Linked DNA regions of Homo sapiens. The protein of the gene in region 1 purifies or fractionates together with the protein of each later gene. This does not show direct contact. Each region holds a gene or a part of one and is shown in the gene's direction. Other genes may lie near its edges. The genes, in order: PCDHGA9, GNPDA1 and MCTS1.

Region 1 (3,328 bases):
GGGCACCAACGGCCAACTAGACTATTCTTTTGGAGACCACACATCTGAGGCAGTGCGGAACCTCTTTGGCCTAGACCCTAGCAGTGGGGCAATCCATGTGTTGGGTCCCATAGACTTTGAGGAGTCACGTTTCTATGAAATTCATGCAAGAGCCCGTGACCAGGGACAGCCTGCCATGGAGGGCCACTGTGTGATTCAAGTGGATGTGGGGGATGTCAATGACAATGCCCCAGAGGTGCTATTGGCCTCTTTGGCCAACCCTGTCCTAGAGAGCACACCAGTGGGCACAGTAGTGGGGTTGTTTAATGTGCGAGACCGGGACTCAGGTAGAAATGGTGAAGTGAGCCTTGATATCTCTCCGGACCTGCCATTTCAGATTAAGCCTTCTGAGAACCACTACTCGCTGCTAACCAGCCAGCCTTTGGACCGGGAGGCCACATCCCACTATATCATCGAGCTGCTGGCCAGCGATGCTGGTTCACCTTCCCTACACAAACATCTCACCATCAGGCTCAACATTTCAGATGTCAATGACAATGCACCCCGCTTCAACCAGCAGCTTTACACTGCTTACATCCTAGAAAACCGGCCTCCGGGCTCCCTTCTTTGCACTGTGGCTGCCTCAGATCCAGACACTGGGGATAATGCCCGCCTCACCTACTCCATTGTAGGAAATCAGGTTCAGGGAGCCCCAGCCTCCTCCTTTGTGTATGTCAACCCAGAGGATGGACGGATCTTTGCCCAGCGTACCTTTGACTATGAATTGCTGCAGATGCTGCAGATTGTGGTGGGGGTTCGAGACTCCGGCTCTCCCCCATTGCATGCCAACACATCTCTGCATGTGTTTGTCCTAGACGAGAATGATAATGCCCCAGCTGTGCTGCACCCACGGCCAGACTGGGAACACTCAGCCCCCCAGCGTCTCCCTCGCTCTGCTCCTCCTGGCTCCTTGGTCACCAAGGTGACAGCCGTGGATGCTGATGCAGGCCACAATGCGTGGCTCTCCTACTCACTGTTGCCACAGTCCACAGCCCCAGGACTGTTCCTCGTGTCTACACACACTGGTGAGGTGCGCACAGCCCGGGCCTTACTGGAGGATGACTCTGACACCCAGCAGGTGGTGGTCCTGGTGAGGGACAATGGTGACCCTTCACTCTCCTCCACAGCCACAGTGCTGCTGGTTCTGGAGGATGAGGACCCTGAGGAAATGCCCAAATCCAGTGACTTCCTCATACACCCTCCTGAGCGTTCAGACCTTACCCTTTACCTCATTGTGGCTCTAGCGACCGTCAGTCTCTTATCCCTAGTCACCTTCACCTTTCTGTCAGCGAAGTGCCTTCAGGGAAACGCAGACGGGGACGGGGGTGGAGGGCAGTGCTGCAGGCGCCAGGACTCACCCTCCCCGGACTTCTATAAGCAGTCCAGCCCCAACCTGCAGGTGAGCTCGGACGGCACGCTCAAGTACATGGAGGTGACGCTGCGGCCCACAGACTCGCAGAGCCACTGCTACAGGACGTGCTTTTCACCGGCCTCGGACGGCAGTGACTTCACTTTTCTAAGACCCCTCAGCGTTCAGCAGCCCACAGCTCTGGCGCTGGAGCCTGACGCCATCCGGTCCCGCTCTAATACGCTGCGGGAGCGGAGCCAGGTGAGGGGCTCGGCGCCGCCCCGGGCGACCCCTGGGGGCGGCACTGGAGAAGCCGCCCGTCCTCATAAGGGATTGAACTTGCATCCACTCCTCTCCGGCCGGCTTGGTCGCTGGCTGCGCTCCACCCGATTCTCGGGATCATTGGACCGTTTGCGCGAAACCAGAGTGGCCGATTAAGGGATGGGGCTCCGAGCACCGGGGGTGGTGGCGACTGTGGGCGAGGGGAGGTGGGACCGACCCCCACCCCTACACTCAAAAAAGGCCGGGGCCTCCTTCGAGCTTCCGGTGAATTTCGGGCGATTTCCGCGGGTGTCGGGGGTCCCGGGAGGAGGCAGTCACAGATCCACCCCTGCAGCCAGCCTCCTAGGCGCCGGCTCCGGCACGCTTCGCCGGTCTGTAGATTTCCTCTTCGATTTCTCCCCAGCTCCCAGCATCTGTGACTTCACTGTTACCCTCCCTATCCCCGCATCACCCAACCGCACCTGTCTGCGGGACTTAGGTGTGCGCGCGGGGCTCATGCGTGTCCTCCCTGCTGGCCACCCCCACGGCCCACACAAGTTGCACGGGCTCGCCACGCCCCGCCAACACGTGCGCGGACGCACGCACGCACTCCTCGCACGTGGGCTTACGCGAATACCAGCTTTCACTGCCACTCGCTCGCGGCCAGATTCACAGGCCTGTTCCGGTCCACTCGCAGCTCCCCTCTGCCGCTCCCTCCGCCGGGCTCAGGAGTACTCGTAGCTGATTGTGCGCGCCTGAGGGTCCCAGATCGCGGCCGCCCAGGACCAGGCGAGGACTCCGGAGCCTCCTCTCACCTCTCCCACCTGCGCCCCGGGCTGGGCCGGGTCGCCTGGGGGGCGGCCTGAGCGAGGCGCGGGGCCAGGAGCGCTGGAGCGACTGCCGCTCTAAGTGCCGGGCGGGCAGGACTCTACGATCCTTGGGCCAGAGGTCCGGATGGTCCCGGGACTCCGTCTCAAGGGTCGGCGACCCCTCAACCCAGAAGCCTCGAGCAGGCGGACAGGCAGAGCTGCCCAGTGGCCGAGGCGCGGCAGGGCTCCGCGTTGGGCGAGTGAGTGAGCCTCTATAGGACAGCAGGACTGGGACTCCAGTGGCACCAGCGGCCCCTTCCTCCCGCAGGAAGTGAAAGCCTCGAGCGCCCTGGCTCTCAACCCCCAGAGATACAGGCTTTTGGCGCCGTCGTGATCACAATGTGCCCAGCGATCTAGGGTCAGAGATTTGGAGGTGACCAAACTATCTGACACTCTAACAAGTCCTGTCTCCTCTGGCAGATGGAAAGCTATAGGCTCTGCCAGATGCCAGGGTGCCCTTATGTGTGAGGAAACTACAATAGTAAAAAACACAAGTTTCTCCAACTCCAGGAGCTTTTATTCAAAATATATCAATGCCTAACTCTGCTCCTAGGACTGTATTTTGAAACACCCCCAGGTGATTTTGATAGCTGATTGAGAGAAACTTACTATATAACTCCTTTGAGAACCTCATCTCATTTGCTCTTCCCACCATTGCTGTTGGCTAGGTACTAACATGCCTCTCTTATAACAGCTTCACAGAGGTCAAGTGACTTGCTCAAGTTCACAGAGCAAGTAAGAGAGATTCTAACCCCTGTCTAACTCCAGAATGTGTGCTTTTAATTTCTTGGCACTTGGAACTTTAAAAGCT
Region 2 (3,653 bases), 520 kb from region 1:
AGTTTGCTGAGTTCTGCACTAGAGGTTTGTGGGAGTAGTATCCACCTGTGCCTGTGAAACTACCAATGTCTCAGGCCCTCGGAGGCTGTGCTAACATCCTGTCTCCTAACTGTGGAGAGACCCAACCTCTGTATGGGTCAGAGTCTGGCCTTCTGAAACCATTCCCTCGTTCCCATCATTGCAGAGTCAGATCCAAGCTCTTCAGAGTGGCATTCAAGGCCCTCCAAAACCTGGCCTCTCCCTGCCTGTCCTGCTTGAACCAACAGGACAGCGTTTCCACACGGGTTCCTTGGAACATTGCTTCTGTTAGATGTAGCACCTGTCAGGGTTCTGAGTGGAAACCACAGAAACCAACTCCAGCTAAATTAAGCAGAAAAGGAGTTTATTGGCTAGATACTGGGAAGTTCAGAGAATTCATGGGAAGGCTAGAAGTTTGGAAAATGGCAGGAGAGAGGAAGCTATGTGGCTCAGGCATAGCTAAGGCCTTGTCACACGGACCAACTAATTATTTTGGGTGGGCTGCGGGGAGCTGCCATTCACTCAGCAGGTATTTATTGAGTACCCTCTGTATGCAAAGCTGTTCTAGCCTCTAAGGATACAGCAATGAACAAAAAGGATATGAACTTCTGCCTTCTGAGGCTTAAATTATAATGGGAGAGACATAATAATTAGCAAAATATAGAGTATGTTAGATGGTGATAAGAGGAAAGGAGAAACATGAAGCAGGAAAGGATAGGGAGTGTGTCGGCAGGGGTGGGGCTGTGCAGTGTTGGATATGGTGGCAGGGAGGGTCTCATAGCCAGGGGCCAGGTTCTGTGGAGCCTTAGAATAACTGGTGTTGCTGAGGGTGAAATGAGAAGCTATTGGTGGGTTTTGAAAAGAGGGGTGACATGACGTAATCTCGATGGGTTTTTTTTCTTTCATTTTTTTAGTTTGCAAAATTTCAAATATTCAAAAAAGAGGAAAAAAACAGGTCAATACCATTCACCTAAATTCACCAATTGTTACCATTTTGCCACATTTGCTTTTACCTTTCTCTGGCTCTTGTTCTTTATCTACACACACACACACTTTTTTTTTCTGAACCACATGAAAATAAGTTCCAGACATCCTGACACTTATCTCTAAATCCTTCAGCACATATCTCCTGAGAATAAGGACATTCTCCTACACAACCATGATACCATCATACCTAAGAAAATGAAAAATCATGCCATCATCTAATATGCAAACTGTGTTCACAATTTTTTCTCAATTGTCCACATTTATCTTTTATAGGTTGGTTTTTAAAAAATTAATTCAGTGTCCAGTCAGGGTTCATGCATCTTTAGTCTTTTAATATACAGTGTCCTCCTACCTTTTATTGTGTGTGTGTTTTTATGACATTGACTTTTTTTTTTTTTCAAGATAGAGTCTGGCTCTATTGGCCAGGCTGGAGTGCAGTGGTGCAATCTCGGCCCACTGCAACCTCTGCCTCCCAGGTTCAAGTGATTCTTGTGCCTCAGCCTCCCGAGTAGCTGGGATTACAGGCACATGCCACCATGCCCAGCTACTTTGTGTATTTTTAGTAGAGACAGGGTTTCACCATGTTTTCCAGGCTGGTCTTGAACTCCTGACCTCAAGTGATCTGCCCGCCTTGGCCTCCCAAAGTGTTGGGGTTACAGGCGTGAGCCACCATGCCTAGCCATGACATTGACTTTTTAATGAGACTCAACTAGGGCTTCGCTGCTCCTCAGGGAAGTCTTCCTTGAACCCTGAAGCACTGGGTGAGCCTGTGCTTTACCCTATCACAACTGACGTTCCTGCTTTGTGTTCTACTCCTAGTGAGTTATCTTAGAGTAGCTACTGTCCCTTGCTCCCCTGTGTCCTTATCACATGGCCCTGTGCCTTGCACATATTACTTGTTCAGGGAGTATCATGTCAATAATGAAGTCTGATGTTCACTCAGGTACTAATCAGAGTGATTTCAGTCATCAGTGTGCTGGATACTGGGAGATTCAGCAGTGATCAAGGCAGACACAGTCCTGCCCTCCTGGAGCTTACAGTCTAGTGGCAAAATAGGCATTAAACAAGCAATTAATGGATGGATGGCAGTTAGGATTGGAGTACTGGGTAGGACTTCAGATCTGACAGGTTCTCCCTGTGAGCAGCCCTGACTTATTCCTGTGAACCCTCTGGGCTTCCAGACTTGGGGTGCAAGGGGTGTTCATGGGTGTGGCCACTCTTGCAGGGAGTACCCCACTTGGCTGCTACAAGAAGCTGATTGAATACTATAAGAATGGGGACCTGTCCTTTAAATATGTGAAGACCTTCAACATGGATGAGTACGTGGGTGAGTCTTTCTCTTTCAAGGTTCTTTCCTGATTCTAGGAGAGTGATGCTCCTCCTCTCATTGGCCCAGTCCTGGAGAGGAATCGGGGAGCCAGTGACATTTGATGATAGGCTCAATTATCAATACTTACCTCTTGGTTTACTCAGCTATAAAATGGGGCTAATAAAGCTGACCTCACAGGTTGTAAGCATTAAATTCATTTAATCCTTTTATGATAAAAGATGTGGAAGTTTCTTATACATAACAAATACTTAATAAATATTAGAGTATCTCCTTCTCCTCTGCCTGCTCCTCAACTCCATTCCATTTCTTTCTGGAACAAATGATTGCAAGTGGGATCCTGGCTCGGGTGTTTCCCCTAGGATCTGTGTCTGTGCTTTCTCTTCTGTGTGTGGCCTCCAGCTCCCCTTTCTGCCAGGTACACTTGAAGGGGACCTGAGATTGGTATCCTTCCTGCTGCTGAAAGACTATACCTTGGTCTTCTATCACCTCTCCCTCACCCAGTCCTTTTGTAATAGCTTCATTTTAAACATCCTTTTTTTAAAAAAAAAATTGTGGTAAAATACATGTAACATGACATTTACCATCTTAACCACCTTTCTGTGTATAGTTCAGTAGTGTTAAGTGCATTCACATTGTTGTGCAACCAATTTCCAGAACTCTTTTCATCTTGTAAGACTCAGGCTCTATACCCGTGAAACAACAACTTCTCATTTCCCACTTCACCAGCCACGGAAACCACCATTTTACTGTCTGTTTCTATGAATTTGACTACTCTAGAATCAAACTAGAGTATATAACTGGAATCATAAAGTATTTGTCTTTTTGACTGGCTTCTTACACCTAGCATAAAGTCCACAAGGTTCATCCATTGTTGTAGTGTGTGTCAAAATTTCCTTCCTTTTTAAGGCTGATTTTACATATTCTTAATGCTTAACATTAAACATTATTTTTTTTTCCTGGCCAAAAAAAAAAAAGTTGATCTGGGGAAGCCCTAAGATAGTTCTCTCTAACCACCTGGTGTTCAAGCTGGGATTTATTCAGGCTGAGTGGGGTAGAACTGGGAGTGGATGGTGGGTTGAGAGGCACAGGGTGAGGGGTGTGCTTGCTTGCTTTCTAAGATGAGTTCAGCCCTACCCCAGGTGGCCAGAGTGTCCCCAGCCTCTAACCTATGGTCATTGCCTTATGAAAAGCAGATCAGATCAGAATGTGGGGATTTCCCAGGCCCTTGGTGTGCAGTTACTCTGGCCAAGCCCTGTGGCCACAGATGGTGGTACTGGGTGGGTGGACACTTATGGATACTGGCTCAGCCTGTGCCGAG
Region 3 (3,653 bases), on another chromosome or scaffold:
CCACAGTTTTCATATAACAAATGTTATTGCTCTTCATTTCATTCTCCAATTTTAAAATGCTTTACTTTCAGCCAATATGTGAATATAGGAGACTTCAAAAGCATAATCAATTACTCCCTTAAAGTTCATTGTAAGTGTTCTCAGAACTCTACCACCTAGAATTTAAAGACGGGAAGATTTACTTTATAATTTTAATTTCTTATCACAAGACTCGATTGTCAATAACTGTTAACGTCCATTTAATAATCTATGGTGAAATAGGTAATTTCTTCTTATTTTCACAAGCGTGTGAGTAAAAGACTGGGTTTTAAGCAATAAATCATTTGTTCTAACTAAGCACATGCTTGGAAAAAGTGCTATTTTTCCAAACGTATGCCTTGAAAACAAATACAATTCAATTGCCTTTTTGGTTCATGGGAAGCCATACTGCGGTGGCTTCCAAGGTTGGCCAACCTGTTTTTATTCTTACCACCTCTTTCAAAAAGGGATGTTGTCTTTGTCCCCAAATTCTGGTGTTGTCCTATGCTGATGCATAATGAAGCCCTGAGGCTTGGAAACTTGCAAACCAATAAGATGATTTAATGATGAAACGGCATGTCAGTTTGACACTGTCTATTAATAGTCCTTGAGTGAGCTTAAATTTGAGACACTTTTAAAAGCGGCATGTAGTTCCAGTTTTGCTTCCCTTATCAGTGGAGCTTGAGATGTCTGTTCCTGCCGACTGATGTTTTAACAAATTTTTAGTTTCTCATGATGTGAAAGATTTTGTATGCACGTCTTAGTCTGGATACTGTTTTCATTAGTTCTAATGCTGCTGCATGCAAATTTTGTTTAAAACCAAAATTGACTCTTCACATCTGGACTAGATTGGACATGGTGAGGAGGCTGGAAGGAAAGTCCTTTTTGCTCTGTAGGCTCTGGACAGCTTTCTTAGAGTTGACTTATCCAGGATTAAGAAAAAGTTTTCTTTTGCGTGACTAAATTCTTTCCACAGTTTGCTTGTGTAAGCATTTTAGATTTAAGCAAGTTCAACTTGAAATATATTTGAATATGAAGTAGAAACAGCTTCATTTAATGGGATAATAGCAATCTCTAACCCATCAAATTAATATCTACTAAATAGCTTCCAAAAAGCACTGACTGGAAAATATTTTTCACTATCATGGCTTTATTCAGTTTCAAAAACAGTAGGGGCTAAAATGTTTGGACATTTATCCTGCATTTATTTTGTGTTTCACAAGGTTAAAATTTTGTATTTTGTAAAGTGTCTGAAAAGGAGTCCACAAAGTATTTCTGCTTTCTTGCTCCTGAATGCAAAGGTCTGAGAGAAGGCACATCCTCATTAGCTTCTGGGTGTTGTCAAACCCAATCCTCTCTCAAGTACCAAATGCCCAGATACATTTATTGGGATGCAGGAATCTCACTTAAGTAGCGGTTTTTGCTGATATAAAGACAAACATCTTGATTAAAGTGTAGGGAGATAGAAACTATACCAATTTGGGCAATTTTGGCTCTAATGTCTAATTTGTTGTGAAAGGGGAAGATGTTCTAAGCTAATGTTCTTAAAAGTAACTTATGAATTTCTTAAAAATAGTTTTTAAAAAGCTGTTTCAGGAAAAGCTGTTTTATTGCATGGCACAGATTAAATGTACAGATGTTATCTTAAAACAATGAAAGAGTTCCCCTAATTTGAATATTCAATACCAGCTGTTATTCACATCAATATTTTAACATTTTACCATCAAGATATTTAATACAAAGGATTGATACATATTTAACTGTTTAGAATTCTAGTTAAACTTGTCCAGATGAGTAAGAGGGAAGGAGAAATAACATTCTCCAAGTACCTACCATGTGCACAAGCTCTACTTATATATCTTGCTTAATCTTAGCAATGATTCCATGAGGTAGATTTTAACTCTCATTTTACAAACGAGGAGACTAAGGCTCAGAGAGGTCATACAACTTCAGGAAAGTTGTATGACCTCTCTGAGGTAATAAATGGCAGAACTGGAATTTGAACCTAAGTCTCCTTGTCTGCAAATCCTGTGTTTTGCAGAAAACTCTCCTCTTGTATTTCATAAAATGTTAAATCTTGGCCCAAATTCAAATCACCATCTTTATGGGTTATTGGAGAGAGGTATAAGTTGGCAAGACTCTGTTCCACGATGGGAAAAAATGGGTAGGATTTGAATGAGTAAGAGTGGGATACTTGCACAGTATCATATTTGTGTGGCTGGAGTAATGTTTTTCTGTTTCCCTCTTAGCAAAGTGGAGTGGGAGAATCTTGAAATTGAACTCAGTCCTGAGGTCTGATTTTCCTATTATTAGTCACTTTCAAGCCAGGTGATTTGTGACCATTTAAATGTTATGCTATTTCAAAGTCTTCTACATCTTTAGAAAAGGACATGAGGGAGGGTTAGTTAAGTGGGGCAATGAGAATGTAGAGTGTAATGTGCAAAAGCAGGACTAGCAGTTGCTTTGAAGATATCTGGGGAAGGCCGGGCACGGTGGTTCACGCCTGTAATCCCAGTACTTTGGGAGGCCAAGGTGGGCGGATCACGAGGTCAGGAGATCGAGACCATCCTGGCTAACGTGAAACCCCGTCTATACTAAAAATACAAAAAATTAACCGGACGCAGTGGTGGGCGCCTGTAGTCCCAGCTACTCGGGAGGCTGAGGCAGGAGAGTGGCATGAACCCGGGAGGCGGAGCTTGCAGTGAGCTGAGATCGCACCACTGCATTCCAGCCTGGACAACAGAGCGAAACTCCGTCTCAAAAACCAACCAAACAAAAAACAAAAATTAGCTGGGCATGGTGGCGCGTGCCTGTAATCCCAGCACTTTGGGAGCCAAGGTGGGTGGATCATGAGGTCAGAAGATTGAGACCACCCTGGCCAACATGGTGAAATCCTGTCTCTACTAAAAATACAAAAAAAAAAAAAAAAAAAAAAATTAGCCGGGCGTGGTGGCGCGTGCCTGTAATCCCAGCTACACAGGAGGCTGAGGCAGGAGATTTGCTTGAACCTGGGAGGCGGAGGTTGCAGTGAGCCGAGATTGTGCCACTGCACTCCAGCCTGGGCGACAGAGCAAGACTCCGTCTAAAAAAAAAAAAAAGATATTAAAATTAATGACAGGAAGAGTTTGGGTTCAGTTATAATTTAAGGGAAAAAACATTGAGGGGCCTAATCTACATTTTGCTCCGGATCCAATGATTTAATTTTTGGGAAGAAAAATCCAGTGATTAAAGTCATGCAAGGAGATGGCCTGGGGCTTGCTAAAAGTCAGGTTGCAGTTTCCATTGCATTCAAGAAAATCAGAAAAATAAATACAACTTTTAGAAGAAACTAAGTTTTCTCCCATTCATGTTTAGCTATTGGGGGGTCTCATACTTCTGGACTTGCTTAGACCTATGCTATCTAATATGGTAGCCTCTGCCCATCCATATGTGGCCACTGAGAACTTGAAATGTGACTAGTTTGAATTAAGATGTGCTGTAACTAAAATACACCCTGGATTTCAAAGACTTAATAAATAATGTAAATTATCTATTCTTTCCTGTTGATTATATATTGAAATGATAATATTTTGGATATGTTTGGGTTAAATAAAATATATTACTAAAAGTAATTTCACCTGTGTCTTTACTTTTTA

What was found.
Region 2: the proteins of PCDHGA9 (region 1) and GNPDA1 purify together in Homo sapiens (co-immunoprecipitation; one large-scale study listed by IntAct). This does not show direct contact.
Region 3: the proteins of PCDHGA9 (region 1) and MCTS1 purify together in Homo sapiens (co-immunoprecipitation; one large-scale study listed by IntAct). This does not show direct contact.

What each region holds. Positions count from the first base shown.
Region 1 is NC_000005.10:141,490,053-141,493,380, forward strand, and holds part of PCDHGA9 (protocadherin gamma-A9 isoform 1 precursor), read left to right. Parts: coding exon of another isoform or gene 1-1,825; intron 1,826-3,328. Other genes in the region: PCDHGC5 (protocadherin gamma-C5 isoform 1 precursor), read left to right, coding at 1-1,648. UniProt on the Homo sapiens protein: Potential calcium-dependent cell-adhesion protein. May be involved in the establishment and maintenance of specific neuronal connections in the brain.
Region 2 is NC_000005.10:142,006,478-142,010,130, reverse strand, and holds part of GNPDA1 (glucosamine-6-phosphate deaminase 1), read left to right. Parts: intron 1-2,230; coding exon 2,231-2,332; intron 2,333-3,653. UniProt on the Homo sapiens protein: Catalyzes the reversible conversion of alpha-D-glucosamine 6-phosphate (GlcN-6P) into beta-D-fructose 6-phosphate (Fru-6P) and ammonium ion, a regulatory reaction step in de novo uridine diphosphate-N-acetyl-alpha-D-glucosamine (UDP-GlcNAc) biosynthesis via hexosamine pathway.
Region 3 is NC_000023.11:120,617,531-120,621,183, forward strand, and holds the end of MCTS1 (malignant T-cell-amplified sequence 1), read left to right. Parts: 3' UTR 1-3,629; downstream 3,630-3,653. UniProt on the Homo sapiens protein: Translation regulator forming a complex with DENR to promote translation reinitiation.